Linked DNA regions of Homo sapiens: regions 2, 3, 4 and 5 are each reported to be linked to region 1. Evidence: microRNA targets listed by miRTarBase, many of them from high-throughput screens and not tested one by one. Region 1 holds a microRNA gene; each other region holds the end of a gene's coding sequence.

Region 1 (4,152 bases):
ATTAGTGATTACCAAAGAGAAGAACTTGCATGAGTTTTGAAAGGGTCGGGGTGGGGGTGAACTGTGTGAGATTGGAATATGGGGCTCTTCCAATGGGAAGCACAGACAGGAACTGGAAGGCTTTTGGGTTCCCTCCCTTTGTCCAGAGCCTCCATAAGGGAAAGACTGGCTCCCACGTGGTCCCCAGGCAGTGTGGTCGCAGTGAGGCAGCAGTGTCGAGCACAAATGCAGCAGCCTGTGGGGCACGGCAGGTGCAGGCTCTGGCTCAAGCCATGGTGGTGACGGGCTGGCAGCTTCAGGCTCCCAGAGTCCTGAGACAGCATCAGGGCCCTGGGCTCCTGCATTCCTGCAAGGTGGTGGTCTTGGTTCTAAGGCTGCCATGAATACTCTCAGAGCCTCAGTGGTGGGGGATTACGGGCTCTTGGTGAAACCATTTTCTCTTTCACTCCTTCAGCACAGAAGTGGTAGGAGCTTTCTGCAGTTCTTAATCTCTTGGCCATCTTACCTTCCCTTTCTACCTTCTTCTGGATCTCCTGCCCCTTTCTAAATGATTCATTTTCAATAGATTCCTTCTGTTGGAATGCATAGGGTGGTAATGCCTTCTTACCAGACCCTGCCAGAAGTAGTGAGCTAAGTCTTTTATTCTTATCATCTGCAATCAACAAGAGCCTCTCATGCATCATTACATTCATCATTTCATCACCAAACACATCATTGCATAATCAGACACGTCATTACATCATCACACACATCATTACCTCATATGTGCACCTCCCACTCTCCACCTAGACACAGGGAAGAGAGGAAGGCACCAGGAAATCAGAGTGGTAAAGAAAACTTCAGGAAATCAGGTGGTTTTAAGACCCTTTATTATGACTTAAATAAATTCTGAAATTAGTTTCTTTAAGGAAGGCCCCTAAACCGGGAATGAACATGAATAAGAATTATAGTCATTTTAGCGACCATAGTTTCCCCAGGAATTATTGCACTAAGGCATTTAAATTTTTTTCCAAATGCTAAAATATTTTGTCAGCTTTATTGACCATTCTTTCTAACCCCTCAGTAAATTATATCTCTATCTGAAGTGGAACATAGGAGATGCCCTAAGCTTCTCAAAGATGTTTTGTAACGATCTAGGTAAGGACTGTGTCTAATGGAAATGACAGGCATAATTTATTTGTGAAAGCAGAAATGAAATTCAACCTTGACAACAGATTGCGCATTTTTCCATAATGCCATGGAAGTGAAATTCTTGTGATGTAGATTAAATCGTGGAATTTGACTTATTGTTCAAAAACATTAGTTCAACTCTAAACAGTTGAATTACTCAGCAGCTGTGTACAAATGTATGATACAGATAACAAAATGTATTAACAATTCCCTAGATCTACAGAAATCTATCACTGCTTTTTAGGATAAGCTTGACTTTTGTTCAAATAAAAATGCAAAAGGAAAGTGTATCCTAAAAGGCAATGACAGTTTAATGTGTTTCTGACATGCAACCTTCAAGAGATCCATATATGAACCATTTTGTGTGGATAGTACAACTCTAAACATAATGTTATGTGGAAATTTGTATACAGAATATTTAGCAAAGAAGAGTCAGGATGAATAAAGTGAAAGGAAAGACTTTCCCAATGTTATTTTTTAAGTGATATGAGATGCATCAAGTGAGATGTGTTTGACAAAACTTTATTCAACGTTGATCCTGACAGAAAAGAAGCAGGAAAAAACAATTAATACACTTCCTATGTCTTGAAAAGTAGCAATTTTAATTTTATTGTGCATTTTGCTTGACGATTTTATATATGACTTCCAGTCAATATTTCATCTGGAGGACTGAGCAGGTATTATGATTCCCATTTTATGGCAGATTGCAAGGTGAATGTCACCTGTCATCAGCGCATACCTGGCCAGGGGCCACGTCTTCCAGATTCCAGCCCACACGGCATGGGTGCCTGCATTTCCCTGTTGCTCTTCTCCTCACACTGATATTAATGAAGCACATCTACTTTTAGTCAATAACCACTTTTATGTTACAGACACATAACAACTGGGAAATAAACATCTATATAATTAATCTCAACTAAGCCAGTTAACCCTTACTTTTTACCTAGGCTGTATGCTGAAATGTGTGCCTTTTCTATAAAGGGGTTTGTATTCCTCTCATTATATTGTATCAGGAGGAATCACTCTAAGATAAAACAGTTTATCTCCAAAAGTCTGCAGAAAATGTTGATAACAACCTGCAACTCTCTGGTAAAGGACTGTGAAATGCAAAACAAACCAAACCAAGCCCCAAGACCTACTCATGTAAGATGATGCTATGATACATTGCATTCATCTTTAGCTTTTTAGCCGTCTAAATTGTGTTCTATGAGAGTCTTAAATATCTTCCCTTTATCTCCTTAAGAAAGTCCTAAATTCTTAGCCAATTTTTTTTCCTTTTTTTTTTTTTTAAGAAAGGATCTCGCTCTGTTGCCCATTCTGGAGTGCAGTGGCACAATCTCGGCTCACTGCAACCTCCGCCTCCCGGGTTCAAGTGATCTTCTGCCTCAGCCTCTCGAGTAGCTGGGACCACAGGACTATAGGTGTGTGCCACCATGCCCAACTAATTTTTGTATTTTTAGTAGAGACAGGATTTCACCATGTTGGCCAGGCTGGTCTCAAACTCCTGATCTCAAGTGATCTTTCTGCCTCGGCCTCCCAAAGTGCTGGGATTACAGGTGTTAGCCACTGTGCCCGGCCCTTAGCTGGTCTTTGAGGACACAATACTGTCCTGTGCATTCTTTCCCAGACATGGCCTTACATCAACTGGAATCCCCAACCAGTCACTGTCTTGCATTGTTTTTTAAATACATTATAGTTTCCACTTTCTGGTACTGGTTCTTTTCCTTCTAGTTGCAAGTACCTGATACCTCTGTCTATAGCAACCTTTCTTCATGGCCCTGCTCAAATGCTCCATCCTCCACAAAGCATTCATTCATTGATTGCACCAGCCAGAAGTGAAGTCTGCATCCTAAGATTACATACAACTCTTTCTTCAAGCCCTTTATTCCAATCATATCCATACGGCTCTGGATTGTTTTCATGAATGTCCTTATCTAATCTCTCCTGAGAGACCCTAAATTCCCTTGGGAGAGGGACTTTATTTTAGAGCTAAGGCTGCCTTCAATCTTCTTTATTTAGTTATAGCTGCTATAAACCTTCTTTGACGTTAGAAAAAGCATACCAATATCTACCAATATTTAGTATTTATTAAGTTCCTGTTATATGTCAGGAATTCTGCAAAGGATTTTACATACGCTATTTCCATTTGCCTTAAGAGTTCTGCAAGATAGTATAAACCAAAAGGTATCTGAGACAGGTCTCAATCAATTTAGAAGTTTATTTTGCCACTGAGAAGGAAATAATCGTGAAGGAGGTTTGTGCCTTTCTCCAAAGATAATGTTGAGGACTTCAGCATTTGAAGAGGAATAGCTGTCTGGAGGGGAAAAAGGGAGGGTATGGTCACATTACTGAATCCACATGCTGCAAGTGAAAGGAAGCAGGTTGGGGAATAGTCAATAATATATTTATCTCTTGCTCCATAAATCAGCACTTTACATAAGATAAGGTGAACACAGAGTAGCTACCTATGGAGACATTTAACCTTTTATCTTAGCTGTCTGTAGAGGAACAAGAGGAAAGGCAGTTTCTTGCACGACTCAATTTTCAGCTTAGTTTGTTTTCTTCTGGCATAGTGAGTTGGGGCCCCAAGTTTTTATTTTCCTTTCAGAATAGATATTACTATTCATATAAAAGGCCCCATAACTTATAAAAGACTGTCAGCGCTGGTGTAAGTCAAATCTGACCTAACTCTAGCCTACCATACTGATATTACACTGTTGTGCAATCATGGTCTGCTATGATTTGAGTGTTTGTCCCTTCCAAAATTCATGTTGAAACTTAATCCCTGATGTTGAGAGGTGGGGCCTTTAAGCGGAGCCTGGGTCATAAAGACTCTGCTGTCAAGAATGGATTATCCACTTATTAATTAATGGATTAATCAGTTTATGAATTAATGTATTGATGGGTTGTAACAAGAGTGGGACTGATGGCTTTATATGAAGAGCAAGAGAGACCTGAGCTAACACACTCAGCTTCCTCACC
Region 2 (4,000 bases), not on the chromosome of region 1:
CAATAATACCCAAGCTGAGAGTCAAATCAAGAATGCAATCCCATTCACAATAGCCACAAAAGACTTAAGTAGCTAGGAATACAGCTAACCAGGAAGGTGAAAGATCTCTATAATGAGAATTACAAAACACTGCTGACAGAAATCAGAGACGACATAAACAAATGGAAAAAGATTCCATGCTCACAGATAGGAAGAATCAATATTGTTAAAATGGCCATACTGCCCAAAGCAGTTTACAGATTCAATGCTATTCCTATTAAACTACCAATGGCATTTTCACAGAATTAGAAAAAACTATTTCAAAATTCATATGGAACCAAAAAAAGCCTGAATAGCCAAGGCAATCCTAAGCAGAAAGAACAAAGCTGAAGGCATCACATTATCCAACTTCAAACTATACTACAAGACTACAGTAATCAAAACAGCATGGTACTGGTACAAAAACAGACAGACCAATGGAACCAAATACAGAACCCAGAAATAAAGCCATACAAACTACAGCCATCTGATCTTCAATAAAGTTGACAAAAATAAGTAATGGGGAAAGGACTATTCAATAAATGGTGCTGGGATAACTGGTTAGCCAAATGCAGATTAGAACTAGACACCTTCACCATATATAAAAATAACTTAAGATGGATTAAAGACTTCTATTAGTCTGTTCTTGCACTGCTATAAAGAAATAGCTGAGACTGAATAATTTATAAAGAACAGAGGTTTAACTGGCTCACTCCACAGGCTGTACAGGAAGCATGGCAGCATCAGCTTCTGGGGAGGCATCAGGGAGCTTTCAGTCGTGGCAGAAGGCAAAGGGGGAGCCAAGCATCTTACATTGCAGGAGCGGGAGCAAGAGAGAGAAGGGGGAGGTGCTACACACACAGATCTCGCAATAACTCACTATCACGAGAACAGCAGCAAGAAGGATGATGTTAAACCACGAGAAACCACCCCCATGATCCAATCACCTCCCACCAGGCACCACCTCCAATGCTGGGGATTACAATTCAACATAAGATTCGGATGGGGACACAAATCCAAACCCATATCAAGACTTACATGTAAAACCTAACTGAAAAAACAAAACAAACAAAACCCCTAGAAGGACACCTAAGAAATACCATTCTGGATGTAGGCCCTGGCAAAGATTTCATGAGGAAGACACCAAAAGCAACTGCAACAAAAACAAAAATTGACAAATGGGACCTAATTAAACTAAAGAGCTTCTCTGCTCTGCTAAAGAAACTATCAACAGAGCAACCAGACAACCTACAGAATGGAAGAAAATATTTGCAAACTATGGATATGACAAAGGTCTAATATTCAGAATCTATAAGGAACTTAAGCAAAAAACAAAACAACAACAACAACAACAACATTAAAAGTGGGCAAAGGAGGCTGGGTGTAGTGGCTCACAGCTGTAATCTCAGCACTTTGGGAGGCTGAGGAAGGTGGAACACTTGAGGTCAGGAGTTCGAGACCAGCCTAGCTAACATGGTGAAACCCCATCTCTACTAAAAATACGAAAATTAGCCGGGTGTGGTGGCACACACCTGTAGTCCCAGCTACACAGGAGGCTGAGTCATGAGAATCGCTTGAACCCAGGAGGTGGAGGTTGCAGAGAGCCAAGATCGTGCCACTGCACTCCAGCCTAGGTGACAGAGCGAGGACCCTGTCTCAAAAAAAAAAAAAAAAAATTGGTAAAGGACATGAACAGACACTTCTCAAAAGACATACACATGGCCAATAAGTAAATGAAAAAATGCTCAACATCACTAACCATTAGAGAAATGCTAATAATCAGAGAAATCCATCTCACCCCAGTCAGAACAGCTATGATTAAAAAGTAAAAAGAAACATATGCTGGCAAGGTTGCAGAGAAAAGGGAACACTTACACACTGTTGGTGGGAATGCAAATTAGTTCCATCTCTGTGTAAAGCAGCATAAGGGATTTCTCAAACTTAAAACATTCTACCATTCAACCCAGCAATCCTATTATCAGGTATATACCTAAAGGAATATAAATTATTCTCCCAAAAAGACACATGTACACATATGTTCATCACAGCACTATTCACAATAGCAAAAGCATGGAATCAACCTAAATACCCATCAACAGTGGACTGGATAATGAAAATGTGGTACATATATATTATGGAATACTACAGTCATAAAAAAGAACAAGATCATGTCCTCTGCAGGAGCATGGATGGAGCTGGAGGCCATTATCCTAGGCAAATTAATGCAAGAACAGAAATCCAAATACTCTCACTTATAAGTGGGAGCTAAACATTAAGTACACATGGACACAAAGAAGGGAGTAATAGATACCAGGGCCTACCTGAGAGTAGAGGGTGAGGATCAAAAAACTAGCTATCAGGTACTATGCTCACAACCTGGATGACAAAACACTGACAAAACCCCTGCAACACAATTTACCCATGTTACAAACCTGCACATGTACCCTCTGAACCTAAGAAGTTGGAAAGAAAAAAAATAAGACATAAAAAAAAGATTGCTACAGCAATCACTTTTCAAACCACCGGTATTAATTTCTGTCCTGTGATTCAAGAAATATCTTCACCACAAATTTAGAGTTAATGGATTAAGAAAATGATTTCTAATTAACTGTGCATCATTGTGCAGTTGTCCCTTGGTATCTATGGGGGACTGGTTGCAGGTTCTCCCTCCAGATACCCAAATCCACAGTTGCTCAAGTCCCTTATAATAAAATGGTATAGTATTTGCATATGACCCATGCATATCCTCCCATATTTTTAAAATGATCTCTAGATTACTTATAATATCTAATATAATGTGAATGCTACATAAATTGTTATAGTGTATTTTTTAGAGAACAACGACAAGAATAAAAAGTCTGTACATGTTCAGTACAGATCCAACTATCCATTTTTCCCCCCAAATATTTTCAATCCACAGTCGATTAACTCCATGGATATAGAACCCATGGATACAGAACCCATGGATACGAAGGGCCAACTGTATTCTCAAAGTTAAAAAAAAAATAAACACTGGCACTCTGAATACACTGTAATGGAAAATGTCAGGGTTTATCTTAAAAAAAAGTAACGGATTAAAAACAATGACAACCCTAAGTATTTAAAGAGATTTATTAAATCATCTTATCACAAAGATGGAAACATATACAAACTAGAAACATGCAACCATCATCTTCCACAGTCAAGTCACAATGTCAAATATTTTTCTTGCCTCTGCAGATGAAAAGTTCAGATCTTATACCCAACTACTTACTCACCCCGAATATTTAAGTCAGTCTTCCTGAAAGTACTCAGGGTAGCAAGTAACAAAATGCAAACGATTATATAAAGAAAGTGCAGTTAAAAAGGAAACTATGTGGCAAGTACCCTCTTTCCCTTCCCACCCCCCAATTAAAGGCAAACAATGGCACTTTGCTCTTGCTTAACCTAGATTGTCTTCAAAAACTATTAAAATGTAAAAGACTTAACAAAAAAACAAAAAGACGTTTAACAGATGTCAAAAAGCTCCTTAGTGTTTGAAAATAAATGCTTAAACAAAAGACAACATATTTTATATCAAACAAGTTTGAAGAGCCCTGAATTGCAGCATTCTGTAACATAAACAAACAAAAAGCTGGTATAGGATTTATTGTCAAAGGCAGAATTTCTTCAGGCAGGTAAGTAAGGAGGTGGTGGTTCTTTTTCAGGCATTTTCACGGCCATTTCATAGGTTGGCAAAACGTACTAAAGAGAGAAAAAAAATTGTATCAGATTTAATTCTCCTTTAAAATCCTTTGTGAGATAATTCAGCTTTCAGACTTTATGCCCTAAATAGGGTTATACAAAACCATAAAGAAGAGCTGAAGAAACTGTTAGCTAAAATGTTCCCAAGTAGATGCCTCAATAACCTGGAATTTTACCAAGATTGCTAGCGAAGGGGAGGGTGGAGAGAGGGAGGTGGGGAGAGAGAGTCCTGCTTCTGGACAAGGATTCCTAGACAGGC
Region 3 (4,000 bases), not on the chromosome of region 1:
ATATGCCAAGCTCTTTTCTTTTTAAATCAGGCATTTATAAACAAGAAAGCATACATTAATTACATAAAAATAGTTTCCGAGTAGCAGAGTAAGCATCATACTGTCGTTAGCAGCAGCGTGGGGCACGGGCAGGGGCGGGGGTCTGGGTGATGTTAAAGGTAGAGATGGAGCTTTTTCCTTAATTGAAAAAAAAAAGTCATTTGTGACTCCTGACTTAAAGCGAGAACGAACATCTCCCTGGACCCTGGTGGGCTGAGGGAGGGGTGGGGGGGCCGGGGTTCGGACCCACAGGGAGGAGGGGGTGGGGGGGGGGCCGGGGTTCGGACCCACAGGGAGGAGGGGGTGGGGGGGGCCGGGGATCGGACCCACAGGGAGGAGGGGGTGGGGGGGCCGGGGTTCGGACCCACAGGGAGGAGGGGGTGGGGGGGCCGGGGTTCGGACCCACAGGGAGGAGGAGGTGGGGGGGGCCGGGGCTCAGACCCACAGGGAGGAGGGGGTCACATGGGAAACGCACATGGGTTTCTCCGTCTCCCCTGCCCCCCGGCAGGAAAGCATTTTTTTTTTCCTCAGTTAAAAACAGCCCAGAAAACAAGACAACTCTCAGGTAAGAAAAGAGTTTCTGAAAAAGGACCCAGCATATACATGTATAATACAACGGTGAAAAAGGAAAAAGTATTTACAGGTGAACTGTTTTTACATTGGCTAGTTCTGTACGAAAAGCAGACATTACGTGTATGAGTTAGCTGCTCCAGAGATATGAATGTTATTGCTGTTGTTTTTCCCTTCGTTAAAAATCTTCTTTCAGTATAGAAATATAATGAGAATTAAACTGAATACACAATCACTTAGATGAAGGGCCTCACACACAGAGGAGTCAGCAGCCCACACAGCGGACACCTCTTCCCCCTTCTGCTGAAAAGAAACGGACTCGCACCTGTGCCAAGGGGAGCCAGGCGTGCACCCCTCGGGGCCTGGGACCCCTCAGTCCAGAGCAGCCCTGCAGCCACAGCTGCCCCCTCAGGCCCCTGACAGTGGAAGTGACCCTGGTGAGCCGAGGCAAGAGCTGTGGGAACTGCCTGGGAGGGTCCCGAGCTCGCCTGCCCACGTCCGGGTCCCACTGACCGCACGGGCCTGGCAGCTGCAGGAAAGGGTGGGCCCAGGTGACACTGGCTGGACCCTCCCAGAGCCGAAGTGGGGAAGGGCTGCCACTGCAGATACAGCGCTTTCCGTTTGGGGCAAGATGGGGCGGTGGAGGCGTGGACCCAACGGTGACCGTCGGGATGGAGCAAGGGCAAGGAGAGGCTCTGGCCCAGACACAGCTTGGAAAAGCTCATCTCCCTCTGGGGTCTAAAAACTCAAAGCAAACGGAGCAAGCCTGGCGGCCCTGGGGATGGGGCAGGGCCTCTACCTCACTGTGATCTTCGACCTGGCGACACAGGACAGCCACACAGAAGCACGCCAACACACTTAAAGCTTTGCTCCAACTAAATCATTTAGTTTCCCTTGAAGAAATAACTGAAAAAAAAAACAACTCTGGTAAAACAAGGCTAAAAACAGCATTCTGCATGTTGCATAACAAAACCGACCCTTTACAAGACACGGTAATAATGCCCGCTGACGGATCTACCTACGGCAGAGGTGTGGAATCCATGCACACAGAACAACCGCAAAGAAAACAAAAGCAAAGAAAATTCCAAACAAACGCTGCATATACATGATGTCCCTTTTGCATTGCACTTTAGAAGGGGTGGGGGGCTTCAGCAGCAACCAAGACCCCCCTCAGTAAACCAAGGGCAAAACCCCGCAGGCAATTCCGCCACCCAGATGCGAGGGCTCAGCAGTCTCTGGTCTTTGCTCGTCACTGCCCCGAGGTCGTCTGTACCTGGGCAAGTAACCTCCACCTTCTGTGAGCGCGTGCAGCTGCCGCGGGTGTTAGAACGGATTCAAGCAAAGAACTCCTGTAAGATCTTCTTATGTAAATAAATACCGTAACTGTAGGATAGGTAGCCGCCTCTTGTCTACTGGGAAATCATTTTTCAAGCTTGGGCATAAGAAACCTTATACAATTTGCATAAACAGGTGAGAGTAAACGAGATTATTTGGAATAAATGCAAGGAACTTATTCTGAGAGTGGCAGATTCAGTCGCTACTGAAGACAGATATCTTGGGGGTAAAAAGACACGAGTCAGGATTTGCTGTACAAGATGCTGGAAGGCACAGAACGACCCCCGAAGTTCAGTTTTTGCATTTTCGTTTTCTTGTGATTCCCTTGTTCAACCAAGCACCAGAGGGGGTTTCTAAGCACTCGAGCACTTCGGATTTGACTGCTCTATAAATCGGTAAAAACCTCAGTTCACTGGGGAATAGAAAGAGAAGGGAAGGTTGTGGACAAAGTGCAGTTCTAAATATACGTTTAAATGAACGAACAAAAAAAAAGAAAGAAAAATTGAAATAATGCTCTTTTGTTCCAATGCTGCAGCCTCAGTCCCAAAATGAAGGGAGCGACGTTTGCCGAACTGAAAAGGGTCGCCCGGTCAGGCGGCACGTGTGCCCGGAGGGGCTGAGGGCGTGACCGCCAGCCACGGTCACCACCCGACGCAGGTCAGTGCCTCGTGGTGGAGGAGCGTGGGCAGAATCACGGGGTGCAGAGGAGCCGAAGACCGTCCCCTCAGCTCCGGGGCAGCTCCTGTGCGGCTCTGCACTTCCTGGTACCCGTGGGGACAGCGCTGGCATCGACGGCGGCGTGGCGGGCGGGGTAGGCGGCAGTAAGGCGGGCAGTGTTCGAGCTCATCTCGCACGCGGCACTGTCCCTGCTCTCCCTGGCAGCAGCAGGAAGACCTGGGTCCTTGTCGCTGAAAAAATAGACTCTGAAGAAAAACCCCTGCTGTCCTCACGCAGCCGCGGGCAGATGAGCTGTGATGGCTTCCCCGGGTGGGGAGGGTGGGGCGGCCGCCACCCCCACTCCGTTGCGGGTCTTCAGATGGCGTCATGTGTTGGGGCTTTTAGAAGTTAGTCATTTAAAAATGTGTTGATTTTCTGAATTTCAAGTCTCCTTACTGGTTTTAAATAGCTTATAACAAAAGTGTAAATGTTAGAATGTTCCAGCAAGCAGAGGACCAGCAGGCCGCCGAGCTGGCCCCGTCTCCAGCTGTAGTTGGGGGACGCGGCTTACTCACTTGAACTTGGCCAGTAGAAAATTTTGCAGTGGGTTCCAAAACTACATGGTTACAAACACTCGCTTGGTAATAGGCACGGTAAGACGTTGTGCTGTGTGGGCTGCAGGGGCGGAGCCGGGCGGAGCTGCACCGCCCAGCCGCGCCCCCCTGCACCCGCGTTGTCGGCGGCGCTGCGGCGGCAGGCACGGAATCTACGGCTCCAGCTCCGCAGCGCCCTCGCTGCCCGCAGCCTCGGGGCGGGCCCGCGGCCACAGCTGTTCCTGCAGCTCCTTCACCACCTTCTCCAGGTGCTCCCGGGCCTCGCGCTCCCGCAGCAGGTCGGCCCGCAGCTGCTCCCGGTCCGCCTCCGCGTGCTGCAGCTTCACCTGCAGGTCTTCGATCTGAAAGGGAGCCGAGTGGTCAGCGGCGCCTGCTCGCTGCCCTGCCCCGGCCCGACGCTGCTTCCCCCACCCGAGGCTCCTGCGCCGCTCCCTGTCCCTCCCCAGTGCCGCGTGCCGGCCCCTCCTCCACCTGCTAGGACACAGGCTCACGAGACGCAGGGCCCAGCAACCACCCACCCTGTGCCCGTCGGGGGGGCACGCACGGAACGTGGTCCCGGGCCTGGCTTCTGCTCCAAGGCCTTTCCGGCTGGGCAGGACTGGCCACCGGGGCCCACGGCGGCTCCACGCCCACCGTGCTGCGTGCCTCAGTCTCCCCACCCGCATACCTGGGCCGAGTACTTGGCGCGCAGGCGGCCCGCCTCGCAGCCCTTGTCGCACACCCGGGCCTGCCGCGCCTGCTCCAGCTCCCGCTTCAGGCGCAGCCGTGACTCGTTGGCCTCTTTC
Region 4 (4,000 bases), not on the chromosome of region 1:
TGACCTCAAGTGATCTACCCGCCTTGGCCTCCCAAAGTGCTGGGATTACAGGAGTGAGCCACCGCCCCCGGACCCAGTGTGGGTCTTAACCTATAACACCGTGTGTAATATTGTTTTTTCATAATACTTAGAAAATATTAATTTTTAAAAGATGATTTGGTAACACACTGGTATATGGCCAAATTTGTATAGACTATAAGGAACTATATATTCAACTTCCTGGCCACAATGCTGAAAAACTCTGTGTGTAACTAATTACATGTCTTATTTAGATACTTCTCCCATTCCTGATAGAAGTGATAAAAACTTAGGAATCCCTCTTTACATACTGTCATCAGCTTCCTCTTTCTTTAGTCTGGCTTTCCGTATCATCAGCAGGAATTCATTTGGGTATTTTTAATCTTGAAGGTAAAGAACAAGCACCTTTGGAGATGAGTATGCATCCAGCGGCAAGCGCTCCACTCTCAGTCTTTACTAAGGAATCTACAGCCTCCAAACACAGTGACCACCATCACCACCATCACCATGAGCACAAGAAAAAGAAGAAGAAGCATAAACATAAGCACAAACACAAGCATAAGCATGACAGTAAAGAAAAGGACAAGGAGCCTTTCACTTTCTCCAGCCCTGCCAGTGGCAGGTCTATTCGTTCTCCTTCCCTTTCAGACTGAGAAGGGGACAAAAAGACCTTTCCTTTCATGTCCAGAAGAATGTATGTAACTAAAGCTTTGTCCTCTGTGAAGAATTATAAAAGGGAGGGGGGAAAGGATTCGCCTCTCCTACAGAAATTCTGAATTCATTTAAGTTCTAAGCATTTGATTTATGTTATTTATACAGTTGGGATCTAATTAGGAAAATGTGTTTTGTAGTTCTGGATAAACTATTTCATCCGCTGTTTCCTCCCCAAAACACACACACAGAGCAAACTCCCTTTCATAAAAGCCCTCATATCCACTGGCAGTCCCCGTTCGCATCATGGTCTCCATGTGTACCGCCAAAGTCAATTATGTTTGAAAGCCTTTGGTGGATGTTATGGGGCAAAGTTATGATTTACACAGAAGCAACTGCCAAATCTGTGGTGCAACCACTATCTCCAGTGAAATATTGTATAACACCATTTGGAACTACTGAAAAGACAGTGGCTTTTCTACAGTACTCTTCCTTATTGCACCATTTTTGTATTAACGTAGAAACTAAGCATCAGAATTTATGAACAAAGAATATGTTATTTTTCCTTTTGCTCTAAAATACTGAGATTTGGGGAAGCAATTCTTTTTTAAAAAAATTTTGAATAACTATCTTTTGATAACACATTCGGCGGTTACGATGTTGGAATTTAGCAGAACTATCAAATCCAAAATTATTTTCAAATCAAGATGTTTAAATTATAAGTTTTTTTGTTTTGTTTTCCAGTAAGTATAAATGAAAATATTCATATGTAAAATATGTTTTGCTTAATGTGGACAATTTACACACCCAACACATACTGTTTCCAAAATTATTTCTATATGACACAAAGTATGATACCTTTAAAAAGGTGAGCTTATATATTGTTTATTAACCTGGAAATAGACAATTTGGCTCTCATACCATAAGCATTTAAAAACATATGAAATATTTTGATTTCTTTATATGGTGGTGTGTTTTTATTTCTGAATTTTCCATGTGCTTTAATATTTGTTTAAGAATATTTTTTATATCTGTTCAATTTTTATCATTCCCCTTATCATTAGAAAGTTTGACAAAAATACTTGAATCTTGGACCTCTAAATATACTTTTAGTTGTGTTTAACTTGTTTAATAAATAACTTTTTAAGTTGATCATTCTGTCTTTGTAGCTTTTTATATTTTGTGTTACCTTCTTGTGTGTGTATATATAATAAACCTGTCCACATAGTTTGCAGAGAGCTTTGTGAATAGGTGGGATTTTTAGCTGGCCTCACTAGGAGGAATGATTTCAGTAGGCTGAGATGGGGTAAAGTTCTCTCAGCAGAAGAAACAGTATCTTCAAAGGTATGTAGGAAAGCAAGGGTGTATTCAGGAATTAGAAGGCTGTGCAGTTGGCCTGGAGTATAAGTGCAAAGGGAATATTATCAGATGTTGAAGGGCCTAAATGACAGTTATTTAAAGTTTCAATTAATTGAATGTTGTCCAACTGAAATTATTTTTGGAAAATAGGATATTTTAGAGTGTATAGTGATACCATATATAGAATTCCCAACTTTGAAAATTCAAAGCACACATTTCAAAATAATTACTTGTGTTATAGGAAGACATTGATAAATAATAGCTAGCTATTATAATTCAGGCACCTCTTGTATGCTAGACATTGTACCAGGAACCTTATGTATATTATTTCTTTATCAGATGTTTATATTAGATGTTTCTTCCAGGGAACTTCTTTTTATGGTGAACTCTTGATTATTTATGCTTCTGGTTGGGAGCAGACAACGCAAAAGGTATTTTATTCACATTTTTGAAATAGATAATTAAACACAATGCAGTTTCAGTCTAAGTCTCCCAGTCTCCTTTCCCAGAGGCAGTAATTTTTGACAGTATTATATATATCTTTCCAGCACATGTCTATATATATATTTCCATGTATTTTTACAGTATGTACAGATTTTTTAAAACAAGCAGTAGCATATAATACAGACTTGCAGAAATTGTTTTTTTTTAAATTATGCTTTATCTTTTATGGCTTTTGCATATTATGTCATAGTTACTAAGATCTTCCTCATTCTACAATTATATAATAATTCACTTTTTTGGAATGTTCTTAAAATTTTATGTTTCAGGTTTACGTTCTTCATCCAACTTGAATCCATCTGCAGTTTATTTTAACAAAAAAATAGGGGTTCAACTTTTTTTTTCCTTCTATTTAATTTTTTTTTTTTTTTTTTGGTAGAGACAGGGTCTCACCGTGTTGCCCAGGCTGGTCTTGAACTTCTGGCCACAAGCCGTCCTCCCACCTCAACCTCCCAAAGCATTGGGATTACAGGCATGAACCACCACACCCAGCCTTGTCTGAACATATTTTTTAAGTTCCCTTTTAATTTCTTCATTGACTCATTGGTAGTTCATGCGTTCAAGAGCATGTTGTTTAATTCCCATATACTTATGAATTTTCTGAAGTTCTCGTTTTGACTTCTAGTTTCATAATTGTGGTCAGAAAAATATGATTTCAAGTAGAATTTTCAGAATTTTGAAATGAACTGAAATTTAATTGAATTGACAGAAATCAAGAAGATTTCAGTCTTCTTAAATTTGCTGAAGCTTGTTTTGTGCCCTAACATGTTAGATTCTGGAGAATGGTTCATATGTGCTCCAGAAGAATGTATACTCTGTTGCTGTTGGATTGAATGTTTTGTATATGTCTGTTAGGTACATTTGGTCTAAAGTGTTAAAGTTCAGTGTTTCCTTGTTACATGTCTGAATGATCTGTCCATTGTTGAAAGTGGGGTATTGAAGGCTCCTTCAGTATCTCCTGCAATATTGTATTGCAGTCTATCTCTCCTTCAGATCCTTTAATATTTCTCTTATATATAGTATTAAGATGCTTTGAGGTTGAGTGCATATATGTTTACAATTGTAATACCCTCTGAATGAATTGGTCCTTTTGTCATTGTGTCCTTTGCCTCTTTTTTATAGTTTTTGGCTTAAATTCTATATTGTCTGATATGATTTTTCATGTCACCCTGATATGCATACTATTTGGACTATTTTTATCATCAAAGTATGGTTTTCTTAACAATTATATATTATTCTAGAAATTTTATTACTACTTAAAAATCAGGGCTTAAAAGTATTCTTACTGTGCCGGGCGTAGTGGCTTACGCCTGTAATCCCAGCACTTTGGGAGGCTGAGGCGGGCAGATCACAAGGTCAGGAGTTTGAGACCAGCCTGACCAACATGGTGAAACCCCGTCTCTACTAAAAATACAAAAATTAGCCGAGCATGGTGGCCCGTGCCTGTAATCCCAGCTCCTCAGGAGGCTGA
Region 5 (4,000 bases), not on the chromosome of region 1:
GGGACCTTGAGTTGGGGATAATAATACATAAACAAACTTGTCTGTCCTGTCTTTCTAGCTAGGTATATGAGGCAAGAGTCCCATCATAAAAAGTGAGTCATTTGGGCAGTTAGGTGGAAAACACACTCCTTTGCAAGTGCTTGCTGTCTGCCCACCAAGTGTGGTTTCTTCTCATCTTTTGACTTAATTACAGTGAGGGCCCCAAGGCTGTTGCAGCTCCTCGACCTGATCGGTTGGTCAATCGCTTGAAGAATATCACTCTGGATGATGCCAGTGCTCCTCGCCTAATGGTTCTTCGTCAGCCAAGGGGACCAGATAACTCAATGGTATGAGGGCATACAAGGCTTGGGGGAGGCCAACTGATAGACCAACATAAAATATGTGGTCCTATTTAAACAATAGGTCAGGAAACTTAATGAAGCAGGGAGACTTCCATATTGCTTATAACTAGTTAGGACTTTCTACACATTGGTTCAGCCCCCTAACCTAATGGTTGCTTACAGTAAGAAGCACATTTCTTTTCTTGATGCTTTGAAGACAGTTTAGGTAATGAATGGGTCAGGAGTGCTTACTGTGGATTTTCTCCTCTAGGAAAGAATTAGTACTGCATAAGATGATTAAAAATAATGCTTTTGTAGTTTCATTTCGGAATAGTGAATGTACTATGATTGTTGTGCGCTCAAATCATTAACTGCAGGGTTTTTTTTTTCTCCCCCCCACAGGGGTTTGGTGCAGAAAGAAAGATCCGTCAAGCTGGTGTCATTGACTAACCACATCCACAAAGCACACCATTAATCCACTATGATCAAGTTGGGGGGAATCTGGTGAAGGGTTCTGAATATCTCCCTCTTCATCCCTCCCGAAATCTGGAATACTTATTCTATTGAGCTATTACACCAGTTTTAACACCTTCCTCGTGTTATGTTTAAAAAAATAAATAAATTTAAGAAAACCATTTTAAATAATGCACAGTTGCAGCCTGGAAAAACTTAAGGTGGCGCCTTATAGTATCAATTTTAGGAGCTTTATTTGGTGCATTTAACGCAACTGGTAATTGCAGAATCCACTTTGCCTGTGTAAGTGAAAAATATAGACTGTTATCTTGTTGGCCCTATGAAATTCTGCACTTTTCATTATATACTCTACCTTCATTAATTACTTCTGGCAAGATGTTCTGCCTTAGCACTCAGTTGCATTCTTTTCCTTTTTCTTCCTGTTCATTATGCTTTAATTCTGAGGACCATATGAGGGTAGAATATATTATCTTTTAAAAATTACAAAAATTTGTATAGGCAAACCATTTCTTAAAGTTGATGGCCAAATTTTAAAATGTTATTTTTCATATCATTTATAATCTTGTCACAATCCACTTAAAGAAGTTTGGTTATATTTCAGTGAAAATTTTCTTCCAGAGTAGGTTTTTTTTCGTGGGTTGGGGGGTAACTTTACTACAATTAGTAAGTATGGTGCAGAATTTCATGCAAATGAGGAGTGCCAGCAGTGTGATAATTTAAACATATTTAAACAAAAACAAAAAAAATGAATGCACAAACTTGCTGCTGCTTAGATCACTGCAGCTTCTAGGACCCGGTTTCTTTTACTGATTTAAAAACAAAACAAAAAAAAATAAAAAAGTTGTGCCTGAAATGAATCTTGTTTTTTTTTATAAGTAGCCGCCTGGTTACTGTGTCCTGTAAAATACAGACACTTGACCCTTGGTGTAGCTTCTGTTCAACTTTATATCACGGGAATGGATGGGTCTGATTTCTTGGCCCTCTTCTTGAATTGGCCATATACAGGGTCCCTGGCCAGTGGACTGAAGGCTTTGTCTAAGATGACAAGGGTCAGCTCAGGGGATGTGGGGGAGGGCGGTTTTATCTTCCCCCTTGTCGTTTGAGGTTTTGATCTCTGGGTAAAGAGGCCGTTTATCTTTGTAAACACGAAACATTTTTGCTTTCTCCAGTTTTCTGTTAATGGCGAAAGAATGGAAGCGAATAAAGTTTTACTGATTTTTGAGACACTAGCACCTAGCGCTTTCATTATTGAAACGTCCCGTGTGGGAGGGGCGGGTCTGGGTGCGGCCTGCCGCATGACTCGTGGTTCGGAGGCCCACGTGGCCGGGGCGGGGACTCAGGCGCCTGGGGCGCCGACTGATTACGTAGCGGGCGGGGCCGGAAGTGCCGCTCCTTGGTGGGGGCTGTTCATGGCGGTTCCGGGGTCTCCAACATTTTTCCCGGCTGTGGTCCTAAATCTGTCCAAAGCAGAGGCAGTGGAGCTTGAGGTAAGTTTATCTCATGCATAGTGTTCGGCTTTGGGCTGTGGAATGTTCAGGCGTTTCACTGATGCCAGAAATGGAGCAGAATCTATCAGCTGGAGACAAAGGCCTTGGGCGGGGGTCCTTCCATTTGGTGCCTACGTGGGGAGATCTTTGGAGACAGAAGGGAGAATGGGAAGGAGTTGCGGCCTGGAGGCTTCCTGCTAGAGCTGAGAAGCCTTCGGGGAGTAATAGGAAGGGGGATTTCCATTGCTTAGGCTGAGGGCGGGGCCCAAGGACTGTTGAAAAATAGCTAAGGATGGGGGTTGCTAGAAAACTACTCCAGAAGTGTGAGGCCGATATTAATCCGGTGTTTTTGCGTTCTCTAGTCACTTTAAGAACCAAATGGAAGGTCACACTAGGGTTTTCATTTCCATTGATTATAGAAAGCTTTAAAGTACTGTAGATGTGGCTCGCCAATTAACCCTGATTACTGGTTTCCAACAGGTTCTTGCTGGTGTGAAATGACTGAGTACAAACTGGTGGTGGTTGGAGCAGGTGGTGTTGGGAAAAGCGCACTGACAATCCAGCTAATCCAGAACCACTTTGTAGATGAATATGATCCCACCATAGAGGTGAGGCCCAGTGGTAGCCCGCTGACCTGATCCTGTCTCTCACTTGTCGGATCATCTTTACCCATATTCTGTATTAAAGGAATAAGAGGAGAGAAAGTAAAAAGTTATTTTGGGTATACATTCAGTTATGCAATAAGCTTAACGTGTTTATAGAGAACAGTTCATTTTTATTAGCTGCTGAAGTTTCTAAAACCTGTCCAGTTTTTAACAGTTCTGTAAACTATTGCAAACTCAGTGTTGAGTTCATTCATGAGTTTCTTCATATATAACAGCTCTATTACATGAGAAACACAGGCCATAGTAGCGAGACTGTCTGATTGTATGGGAGATAATAGGATGGAGATAAAGGATTCAGAGATGAGTGTTCTTCAATATTTATTTATTAGCTAGTTGAAGCAGCTGAGACCAGATGATTGGAGTAGCAAGAACTTGAGATTTTTAGTCTTTATGCCTAGGATTTTGGTCCCTGTTTGCAGTTTATTTAGTTGTGTGATATTGAGCAACTGAATCTCTCCCAACCTCATTTTCCTCATGTTTTAAATTACCATAAACTTGTCCTGCCTACCACACAGGGATGTTATGGAAAGTTAAATAATATATTTAAGTTATTTATGAATGGTAAAGCACTATGTAATAGTACTTAGGGATTCTATTGTTATTATGAGAGTTCATGGTACAGATTGTCTTCAGTAAGTGGCACCTAAGGCTCTTTAAATAAAGGGTTTTGCCGGACACGGTGGCTCACGCCTGTAATCCCAGCACTTTGGGAGGCTGAGGCAGGCGGATCACAAGGTCAGGAGTTCAAGACCAGCCTGATCAACATGGTGAAACCCCGTCTCTACTAAAAATACAAAAATTAGCTGGGTGTGGTGGCAGGCACCTGTAATCCCAGCTACTCAGGAGGCTGAGGCAGGAGAATCGCTTGAACCAGAGGCAGAGGGTGCAGTGAGCCGAGATCACACCACAGACCTCCAGCCTGGGCAACAGAGCGAGACTTCGTCTCAAAAAATAAATAAATAGATAAATAAATAAAGGGTTTTGTAATTTTGTTCAGTTTAGAAATGCCTAACTTTAGAGATTATTTTAATCAACACCTGGCCTCCCTACCATC

The links. Region 1 holds the annotated microRNA hsa-miR-651-3p (AAAGGAAAGUGUAUCCUAAAAG, at 1,448-1,469, shown strand). A microRNA usually pairs through its seed, bases 2 to 8, with sites in the 3' UTR of a target mRNA and lowers its output. Matches are read on the target gene's strand: a 7mer-m8 pairs with bases 2 to 8, a 7mer-A1 pairs with bases 2 to 7 and ends in A, and an 8mer does both.
Region 2: the mRNA of LAPTM4A is a reported target of hsa-miR-651-3p. Seed matches in the 3' UTR shown: 7mer-m8 at 3,363-3,369.
Region 3: miRTarBase lists SKI as a target of hsa-miR-651-3p. Seed matches in the 3' UTR shown: 7mer-m8 at 664-670.
Region 4: miRTarBase lists TAF2 as a target of hsa-miR-651-3p. Seed matches in the 3' UTR shown: 7mer-m8 at 690-696, 7mer-A1 at 1,159-1,165 and 7mer-m8 at 1,231-1,237.
Region 5: the mRNA of CSDE1 is a reported target of hsa-miR-651-3p. Seed matches in the 3' UTR shown: 7mer-m8 at 1,200-1,206.

The regions. Positions count from the first base shown.
Region 1 is chrX:8,125,571-8,129,722 of GRCh38, forward strand. It overlaps MIR651 (microRNA 651), which reads left to right and starts at 1,395; the gene lies at 1,395-1,491. The region is part of intron 1 of LOC107985675 (a long non-coding RNA gene); the gene reads left to right.
Region 2 is chr2:20,029,539-20,033,538 of GRCh38, forward strand. It overlaps LAPTM4A (lysosomal protein transmembrane 4 alpha), which reads right to left. Exons shown (of 7, transcript NM_014713.5): 7 at 3,112-3,741. The coding sequence ends at 3,667. Among named protein-coding and RNA genes, the nearest start is that of MATN3, 19 kb to the left of the region's middle.
Region 3 is chr1:2,306,133-2,310,132 of GRCh38, reverse strand. SKI (SKI proto-oncogene) reads right to left here. Exons shown (of 7, transcript NM_003036.4): 6 at 3,883-4,000; 7 at 1-3,556. The coding sequence ends at 3,368. Among named protein-coding and RNA genes, the nearest start is that of SKI, 80 kb to the right of the region's middle. RefSeq lists an enhancer at 2,846-3,479.
Region 4 is chr8:119,728,595-119,732,594 of GRCh38, reverse strand. It overlaps TAF2 (TATA-box binding protein associated factor 2), which reads left to right. Exons shown (of 26, transcript NM_003184.4): 26 at 409-1,821. The coding sequence ends at 671. Among named protein-coding and RNA genes, the nearest start is that of ENPP2, 92 kb to the right of the region's middle.
Region 5 is chr1:114,714,939-114,718,938 of GRCh38, reverse strand. It overlaps CSDE1 (cold shock domain containing E1), which reads left to right. Exons shown (of 20, transcript NM_001007553.3): 19 at 194-326; 20 at 723-2,023. The coding sequence ends at 770. It overlaps NRAS (NRAS proto-oncogene, GTPase), which reads left to right and starts at 2,168. Exons shown (of 7, transcript NM_002524.5): 1 at 2,168-2,281; 2 at 2,762-2,889. The coding sequence starts at 2,779. RefSeq lists enhancers at 2,163-2,362, 2,373-2,472.